3 linked regions of the Homo sapiens genome follow. The protein of the gene in region 1 purifies or fractionates together with the protein of each later gene. This does not show direct contact. Each region holds a gene or a part of one and is shown in the gene's direction. Other genes may lie near its edges. The genes, in order: ARFGEF2, NUP88 and ZDHHC11.

Evidence for each region.
Region 2: the proteins of ARFGEF2 (region 1) and NUP88 fractionate together in Homo sapiens (co-fractionation; one large-scale study listed by BioGRID). This does not show direct contact.
Region 3: the proteins of ARFGEF2 (region 1) and ZDHHC11 purify together in Homo sapiens (co-immunoprecipitation; one large-scale study listed by IntAct). This does not show direct contact.

The regions. Positions count from the first base shown.
Region 1 is NC_000020.11:48,924,555-48,928,210, forward strand, and holds part of ARFGEF2 (brefeldin A-inhibited guanine nucleotide-exchange protein 2), read left to right. Parts: intron 1-3,656. UniProt on the Homo sapiens protein: Promotes guanine-nucleotide exchange on ARF1 and ARF3 and to a lower extent on ARF5 and ARF6. Promotes the activation of ARF1/ARF5/ARF6 through replacement of GDP with GTP. Involved in the regulation of Golgi vesicular transport.
Region 2 is NC_000017.11:5,384,264-5,386,584, reverse strand, and holds the end of NUP88 (nuclear pore complex protein Nup88), read left to right. Parts: intron 1-244; exon of another isoform or gene 245-315; coding exon 316-379; 3' UTR 380-1,752; downstream 1,753-2,321. UniProt on the Homo sapiens protein: Component of nuclear pore complex.
Region 3 is NC_000005.10:840,983-844,638, reverse strand, and holds part of ZDHHC11 (palmitoyltransferase ZDHHC11), read left to right. Parts: intron 1-914; coding exon 915-1,039; intron 1,040-1,964; coding exon of another isoform or gene 1,965-2,142; exon of another isoform or gene 2,143-2,946; coding exon of another isoform or gene 2,947-2,956; exon of another isoform or gene 2,957-3,656. UniProt on the Homo sapiens protein: Endoplasmic reticulum-localized palmitoyltransferase that could catalyze the addition of palmitate onto various protein substrates and be involved in a variety of cellular processes.

The DNA.
Region 1 (3,656 bases):
AGGAGCAGCTATGTGGTATTTTAGAGATTACCATGTATAGATTGTTGTTAATTGTGATAAGAGGAACTGTAAATGACGGCTCAAAGTTGAAATGCTTGGATGATAGAGAGCATTTACAGGAAACAGCTTCTGTGATATGATTCCACCAGCTGTAGCATATTAGGGGAGAGGATCAGGGCTGCAGGGACTGTATAGTGTAGATGTTAGCTAGGAGTGTATTCTTTGGGACCCTAGACTTCTGTGTTCAAACCTCCTGCCTTCCACTTGCTACGTTTGTGATCTTGGACAAGTTACTTCCTTATAGGATTATTGTAAAGATTAAGTTAATTGACATGTGCAAAAAACTTGGCATGTAGTAGGTGCTCAGTAAATGCTTGCTATTACTTTTTTATTATTATTATTTTAAGCTGTGACAAACCACAGCAGCTGTAATTACTCTGGTTTGATGTTCTTAACCTTAGTTCCTCGTTCAGGAATGACTTACTGCTCTATTTGGTTTGTAGATGCAGTAAATAAGAATGTAATTACGTGATTGAAAGGCTGTGTTGGAGTATTAACTTCCTAAACTCAATGAAGACAGGGGTTGTCCTTTGTAAAAATTGTGATAATCATGATGGAGCAGATTTGGAGTAATCTCAATGATTCGTCCGCACTATACACCAAAAGCATAAATAGGGACTGCCCAAGTAGGGGATAGTGCCCTTCCAACCTTTATCTGGAGAAATCAAGACAGCCTGTGAGAGTATTCATCGCCCCAAGGATACTGTTGCTCTTTACCTTGTTATGAAACTTTGATATATATTAATAATCTTCAACCTTTCAGCCCTCTGTTGGAGAATATAATTACATTCTTAAACCTCCCTTTTATAATTGTCTTATTTAAGACTCATCTTCTCCCATCATGTATCTTTAAGTTATGTTTCTGCTCTTAAACTATATGAAGTTTGGAGGCTTAATAGGATAATCTATTTAAAATTCGATATGGAAAAATTTATCTATGGCTGGGCACTGTGGTTCATGCCTGTAATTCCAGCGCTTTAGGAGGCCAAGGTGGGCAGATTGCATGAGCCCAGGAGTTTGAGACCAGCCTGTGCAACATGGCAAAACCCCATCTCTAAAAAAATATATAAAAATTAGCTGGGTGTGGTAGTGCATGCCTGTAGTCCCGGCTACTTGGGAGGCTGAGGTGGGAGGATGACTTGAACCTAGGAAATGGAGGTTGCAGTGAGTTGAGATCATGCCATTGCACTCCAGCCGAGACAGCAGGGTGAGACCCTCACACAAAAGTGCTAAGTAATGGCTAGGTGCTCTATAATTACTAGTTGTCATTATTCTCAGCCATTATCAAGAAAATTTAAAAAGAATAGTAAACATACGTATTTTCATATGAAATTGAATGACTTTTAAAGATCACATGTTGTATTATATCTCCTATGTACTAAGCATTTCTGAGTTCCAGGCACAGTAAAGTGGGCTTTTCATGCAATTTAGTTCTCACTATTATCATCATTCCCACTGAGGCCCAGAGAAGTTAAGTTGGCCAGGGTAACTCAGTAAGTGATGGAACCAGGGTATAAACACAGGCAATCTGGCTCCATAGTCCAAGATCTTAACTATTACTACCATGTTTTCTTGCTTCTCCATATGAAAGTTGTTATGTTTGAAATACTCAGTAGAGTTTTTAAAACAATCAGTATACCGCAGTGGAGTTTCAGGAGACTGTATTTTCTATAGCTGAATTTTGAGATATGTTTGAAAGCCTTGAGTCAAAAAGATCACAGCTCTTTTCTTCAGGTTTTTACTACATATATACTAGGTTTACTTTAATTAGGGGCTAATGGAAAGAAGGAAATGAGAGTAAAGAGCTGGTTACACATAAGTTTCATTTGAGTTATTCAGTTTTTCTTTTTTTTTTTTGAGACAGGATCTTGCTCTGTGGCCCAGGCTGGAGTGCAGTGGTGGGGTGCGATCTCAGGTCACTGCAACCTCTCCATCCCTGGCTCAGGTGATCCTCCCATTTCAGCCTCCCAAGTAGCTAGGACTACAGGGGCGTACCACCCACCTGGCTAATTTTTCTGTTTTTAGTAGAGACGGGGTTTTTCTGTTGTCTGGGCTGGAGTTAATCAGTTTTTCTAATTGATGATATCTCTTCATCAGCAGTAAACTCCCTCTTATTAATTCTGGAGTTGTGACCTGTTATTAATTCTGGATTGTGATTCATTTCTTTGGGTACAGCAGGCAATGGGAGACCAAGGCTAAGGAAGAGAGCAACTTGCCCATCCACATCCACACAGCTGGGTGGGGAAACGTAGCTGCAGCACATGATGTAGCTTCACATAGATCATAACATCCATTCTTAGATTTGCTCCTCTGTTTAATATACGAGATTTAGGATGTGGATGGGTCATTGGTGACCTTAGCTTGAGCTTTTTTGATGCTGTGATGGAGGTGAAAGCCAGACTGGCATGGGTTGAGGCGTGGGAGGTGAGGAAACAGATGGTGAGCATAGTCAGCTCTCCCAAAGTTTGGTTGTGTTGTAAAGAGGAAGAAGGAGTGGCTCCTGGGAGTTGTTTGTTTATTTAAAGGTAGAAAAGATTTTAACTTTAAATATTGTTAAGGGATCCAGTTAAGGAAGTATATTCCTAAATCTTAGTTGTATATGAATGTGTGTAAGACATACAAATGGGCATTTATCATATGGACATCTGTGTGTCCATATGATACATAAATTGCTTTTTCTTCCATATGATCCTTTTATTCTAATTTTGATGTGTTCAGAAAAACCATTCTCATCATGAGGATTACTGTGAAACTTGAAAAATATAAAAAACATCTCTAAATTGATGTAACGTGGCGGGGCATGGTGGCTCACGCCTGTAATCTCAGTACTTTGGGAGGTCGAGGCGGGCGGCTCAGTTGAGGCCAGGGGTTCAAGACTAGCCTGGCCAAAATGGCGAAACCCCATCTGTACTAAAATACAAAAATTAGCTGGGCGTGGTGGCGCACACCCGTAATCCCAGCTACTTGGGAGGCTGAGGCAGGAGAATTGCTTGAACCCGGGAGGTGGAGGTTGCAGTGAGCCAAGATGGCGCCACTGCACTCCAGCCTTGGCAACAGAGCGAGACTCTGTCTCAAAAAAAAAAAAATTAAAAAATAAATAAATAAATTGACATAACAAGACTTTAAATTGAAATGCAGAATAAAGCCTTTAATTTTAGCAAATTCTAGTGTTTTGATGAGACATTTCGTTTATAAGTGCTATGTATCATAAAAATTTTGAGAAATAACAGGACTCAGGACCCTGGAAGATTACTTTTTGTTGAAAACCACTGTGGATTCTTCAGGAGGAGGTTATCTGTCTGGAAGCAGCATCAAAAAACTGGATTGTTCTTGATTATTGAAAAGCATTTATATGTAGGATTGGCAGAGAGTTGATTGAGACTTTGAAAGTTTGATTTGCTTATTGATAGTCCAGTGATCCCTCTTTGGGCCGCAGTTTCCCAAGGTGATAAAGATAGTAATACCTTTGTCACAGGATTATTGCAAAGGTTAAATGGACTAGTGCAGTAAGTAACTGGCACAGTACCTGGCACCTAACAGATGACCTGCTGAAATTCAGAGGCATTGGTGTTGCAATCTTTTTTTTTTTTTTTTTT
Region 2 (2,321 bases), on another chromosome or scaffold:
GAGAGCCACATGATACATAGGGACTTAAGAAATGACTATGGTGGGAGGATTGAAAGGGATGACCTTCTAGTAACATGATTTTGTTGTGTGGCCAAAGGTATTTTACAGTAATTATGTTCAAAAATATTTCCAGTACTTGCACCGTTTGCCACCTTAAATGAATAGTGAACACTATTGCTATCCACCTGAAACCTTCAGCTGTTAATTTTAGCAAAGCAGTTCTTAGATGTTTCAACATTACCAGTTTAAATTCTTAAGAATCCATATAAATGGTTTATTATAATTCCAAAAGTGAGTGACTTTACAATTTTACAGGGGTGAACATATAAGGGAAATGGTGAAGCAAATCAATGATATCCGCAATCATGTAAACTTCTGACACCACCAGGAGCTGACTCACACCTGAACTGAACACCATTGAAGGCTTAAACCCATATTGTAAAACAGGTAGAATTATCTAATTTATAAAAAGGTGTTTTGATGACCTTTGGTGTGGTTCATCTTTTTAAATATGTTGTTTTATAATAATTGAGTAAATGCTTTTATTTAAAATTTGGAATGTGCTTTATAACTCAAGCCTACAGTTGTGTTCAGCAAGGACTCAGGATTATTTCACACTGCACACTGCCAGAACCTCCCTGAACCCTATTGAGTTTTCTCCATATTTGAGCAAGTTAGTTATTCTTGTGAGCTGTGTTTTAAAGTAGCAGCACCAGAAACATGACTCTGAAGAGGGATAGAACCCTAGGATTCAAAGGAGAAGACCACACAGTGTACTTGGCAGCAGCTTTTTTAATTTGAACACTTTCTTCTTGAGGACACACCTTCAGTACAGTTAACAAATGGTTACACCTGAAATCTGCTGAGAGCAGAGCTCAAGATCCACAATTGCAAAGGCCACTGCTGGCTCACTTCCTCACAAGCTGTATTACCTTTCAGAGCTGAGTGAGGCTGTGCTCTACGTCCCAATACTTGTTACTGAGTGGACATGAGGTGCAAGTTTAGCACCTTAAAGGGAGAAAAAAATAGGTTAGTATGCAGAATGTGATTTTGTCCTCACTTCACCTTAAGTCATCTTTTTACACTTGCCAATGTGAGTTCTGAAAGGTACTACTATATCTGCTTAGAAATGGCTGAGTGACTGTCAATTAAAAGCCACATGATAAGGTAGGTTACAGGTAAGAGGTAAATCAGGTTAGACATGCATGAGAACATGTAGGCACAGACTGAATATAAGCACAGGAACACTCGTGAAACCCAACTGAGCTTTTCTTTTGCCTAGAAGGGCTAAATCCTGCCTTCTACATCAGTTCCCATTTATGCTGAAAACCCAGTTGAAAGAATTGTTTCCTACCTGGACAGTGACACAGTAGTTTGTTTCATACCAGAAACACATTGCTAAACAAAACTTAAGAGTCTCAGTTTGGGTTTTTCTACAATAAAGTGAATTCCAACAGTTGGCATTTGCCACAGTAGAGACCACTAACCATTCCCTAATTGTGATGATTTTATTACCCAGCACCATCTTCTGGAGAAAAATATCTGTAAGGTGCTCAGTCTCAGCAGAACACTTCACTGCAAGCTCTAGTTCAGTCAGTTCAGAAAGGCTGTGAATTGCCCACCCTGATTTACAGCACTAATTTTAATAATCTGAAGACAAATTCGCTTGGGGCTTATCCAAGGGACTAGTCTTAAACCTACGTAATTTAAATTGATTGCATTTTATAATTAATAAAATCCCCTGTAACTCAATAGTTATATGTTTCCTTTATCTAAACCATGTAGCACTCTTTATAAAGGGACTTTAAACCAATTAAAATAATGTTTCATGTGCGGCAAGCCTTTAGTACTATTTCCATAATTGGTATTTATTTTTAAATTCATAACCATGAATGCAAGACTACAATAATAACCCAAGAGATGAGGTATGTAGTACTTATCATTTGTCCTATGGAAGACAGAAGTACAGAAGATCTTTAGGGTAAGTCCATAGTGACCTCATTTATAACAAAGACAATTCACTTTAAGTTGATGGTGGCGTTATGTGAACAAAACAATCTACCTAGTTCACTAACTCCCAGAAGGCTCTTTCAGGTACCCTGCTGTTATGCAACCAGTCTCAAAAATGATTTGAAAACCATCTTACTTTTGAACCTCCTGGATGATGAATCCATCCACTGGATATTCCTGGGACAGTACTCTCAGCAGGTATTGATGAACATGAATCAATTCTTTGTGCTTTCTGTAGCACTTCATAAAGTTATGGCAAAGACCTGTTTCACTGAGGCTTTCTTCACACAGGAAAGGAATCTAATGCTTGT
Region 3 (3,656 bases), on another chromosome or scaffold:
CACGGCACTCTCGTGGCTCTCCCCTTCCCTGGCTTCAGTGCCTTTGCCCAGCATGGTGCCATGGAGACCCCAGCACAGACCATGCTCAGGGCCCCCCGAGTGGACCGAGCCCGCGTGCTCCTTGGCTGGTAGGGAGGCCTGTCTGCATCAGGTGGAGTCGGGAGGTGCGGGCAGAGGCCCCAGAGCTGTGACACTGGAGACGCCGTGTGACCCTCATGCTCCGCTGGTAGGCTTGGGCGAGTCGCACCGCATCTCTGACCTCACTTTCCCCACTCGTGAAAAGGGCTGGTTCCCCCTCCTCACAACCTCCTTGTTCCTTGTGGGGATTAAAGGCAATCACGTTTGCAAGAAGCGCTGCCTGAATTGTCGGGCGGTGTGCTGGTGGGAATGTCCCACGGCCACCCCTCTCCAGCGAGAGGCCTGGAGACCTGGGGGGGCGTCACAGGACGGCACAGAGACAGGAGCCTGAGCTTCCAGGCGCGGTCGGGAGCAGGGTTTGAGGCCAGCGTTGGGCGGTGGCCAGGCGCCCTCAAGTGGACGCCCACACTGACCTGTCACCTCCACCCTGCGGGCTCCAGATGCCCTGCGCGTCCCCACCCCTGCGCCCCCCACACCTGCCCTGCATGCCCCCGCCCCTGCCCCAGATGCCCTGCGTGTCCCTGCCCCTGCCTCTGCACCCCCCACCTGCCCTGCATGCCCCCGCCCCTGCCTCAGATGCCCTGCGTGTCCCTGCCCCTGCCTCCCCGCCCCCACACCTGTCCCACATGCCCCGCATGCCCCTGCCGCTGTGCCCCCCACGCCCGCCCCTGCCCACCCCGTGCACACCCCCTGCCCCCGTGCCCCCCACACCTGCCCCTGCGCCCCCACTGCTCCCACGTCCCCACCCCCATGCCTGCCTGTGTGTCTCCCGGCAGGTTCTTCTTCAGCACTGTGGCCTCGGCCACAGCTGGCATGCTCTGCCTGATCGCCATCCTGCTGTATGTCCTCGTCCAGTACCTCGTGAACCCCGGGGTGCTCCGCACGGACCCCAGGTATGAAGGTACGTGGCCGCCGCTCTCAAGGGGCCTCATCCTCGCCTCCAGCCGTCTTTCCGGGTGGTAGTATCGGGTCTGGGGTGGTCGGCCCCTCTTGTCCCAGGGAGAGGCCGGGGCAGGCAGCCCCATGCAGGCTCTGACCTGGCCCGACGGCAGCAGCCCAGTGTTCATACAGCCCAGCAGCCCCCAGCGCGCGGGAGGCAGGCTCGGGGAGGGCGCTGGCCACGCTGCTCTGTAGATGCTGCCAGGTCGTGTCAGGCGAGAGACAGTGGGGTCCACCTCTGCCCCTGCCCTCCGCAGTCATCCCTGTAGCACCTGTCACACCATCCTGTGGGGCCATGTAGTTGTGGGAGGGTGGGGGTGCCCATCCTGCAGGAGCAGCCCATGGGGAGGGAGAGTGGAGGCAGCGCTGAGGGTGCTGGGCTGTAGGCTGCGGTGCGCTGAGGCCCTTGGCCAAGTGGGCCCGGAGCCTGGGCCTCGGGAACCGATGCTCACACTGAGCCACTGGAGAGACGTGGCGGTGAGGACTGTGGGCTCCAGAGGCGAGTCCACGCCTAACCCAGATCCCGTGATGCCAGCATCCTCGGGAAATGGGCCTGTGGCTGTGACTTAATATCTGAGGTGGGAGGGTCGTGCTGGGATGTCCCAGGGGGCCCAAATCCAGCCACGAGTGTGCTTGTAAGAGAAAGGAGAGACACAGAGGGGAGGTGGCCTCGTGAGGATGGAGGCAGGGGTGGAGTCACACAGCCACAGCCCGGGGTCGCCGGGAGCCACAGGAGCTGGCAAAATTGGGAAGACCTCCCTGGACCCTGCGGAGGCAGCGTGCCCAACTGTCCTGCAGCTGGACGTCAGAGCCCTGCCTGCCTCAGACTGCAAGAGTCTGCTGGAGAAGCTGCCCCCACCCGCCACCATTTGATGTATTTATTGCAGCAGCGCCAGGACCCTGACCAGGAGGACCTGGGCCAGAGAAGCCCCTCGGGGTGCAGGACAAGACTGCCAGTCTCAGCCCCAGGCATGGCTGCACCCGCACTGCACACAGCCCGGGTGGCGAGACAGGGAGGACTTGCCTGCCCTTGTTCCAGAACATTCCGGAGCCAACACGGTGTGACATTTTTTTCAAGGATGAGCTTTGCCAGCTCCACGTGGAAGTCCCTAAAGCTCCTCCTTCCACTTCGAAGCGTGACTGATGCCTCCAGGGCCTCACAGCCGCTTCTGAAGCACTTCCTGAAAGCCAGCTCCACCCTGGCGAGGCCCTGACCTCAGCGGACCCAAGCCCAGGACGATGCCTGTTGCGTTCTTCTCCCCCAGTAGCAAGTCACCTTCCCCAGCAGCCTCCATGTTGTCTGGGCTCTCCCTGTGGGGGATGCCAGGGGAGAGTGAGAGAGCAGAGGTGGCCAAGATGGCATGTGCTGCCTTCTCTCCTGGAACATGCTGCTTCCACAGGGCAGTGCCAGTGTCTCCGTGTGAATTCATTGATTGTGGCCTGAGTGAATTCCTGGGTTTGCTGTTCCAGATGATTCTGCAGGGCTTCAAAACCAGCAAGGCCCTGAGCAAAGCTGCTCCTTCTTCTCATGGGCTGAACTCATCGTGATGTCACTGGCTAAGGGGGGCAGCATGGGGTCCAGCCCGGCCCAGGCACATGGAGCTGCGGTCCTGTCAGGCTGAGTGTGGTGTTTGCCTTCTAGGATGGCCCCGAGGCCACCAGTTCCAGAGAGGGTCTGTCACCGAAAGACATCCATGCTGAGTCACCCAAAGACATCCATGCTGAATCCATCCCTCTGCCATTCTGCCTTGCCCCACCCTCTGCCATTCTGCCTTGCCTGGCCCTCTGCCATTCTGCATTACGCCTGATTTTTGGAAGTGTGGTTTTGAGTGTTGGCAGCCCAGTGTCACAGAGGACCATATCTTAGAAATGACCCCAGGCGAGAGCTGTGGCTTTCCTGTTCTATTTGAAGGCAGCTGTTTTAGGGTGCAGCGGGTCCAGGGACACAGAGTGGGCCATGAGCAAGGGATGGGTGCTGGGGCCTGGCAGAGCTGGCAGGCTCTGTGACCCCGGCACTTAGGAAGGGGTGGGCACCGTGACCCTGGCACTAAATAAGGAAGGGATGGGTGCTGTGACCCTGGCACTTAGTGAGGAAGGGGTGGGCACTGTGACCCCGGCACTTAGTGAGGAAGGGGTGGGCACTGTGACCCCGGCACTTAGTGAGGAAGGGGTGGGCACTGTGACCCTGGCACTTAGTGAGGAAGGGGTGGGCACTGTGACCCCGGCACTTAGTAAGGAAGGGGTGGGCACTGTGACCCTGGCACTTAGTAAGGAAGGGGTGGGTGCTGGGGCCCTGGCACTTAGGAAAGGATGGGTGCTGGGGCCCGGCAGAGCCGGCAGGCACTGTGACCCCAGCACTTAGGAAGGGGTGGGTGCTGTGACCCCGGCACTTAGGAAGGGGTGGGCACTGTGACCCTGGCACTAAATAAGGAAGGGATGGGTGCTGTGACCCTGGCACTTAGTGAGGAAGGGGTGGGCACTGTGACCCCGGCACTTAGTGAGGAAGGGGTGGGCACTGTGACCCCGGCACTTAGTGAGGAAGGGGGGTGGGCGCTGTGACCCCGGCACTTAGGAAGGGG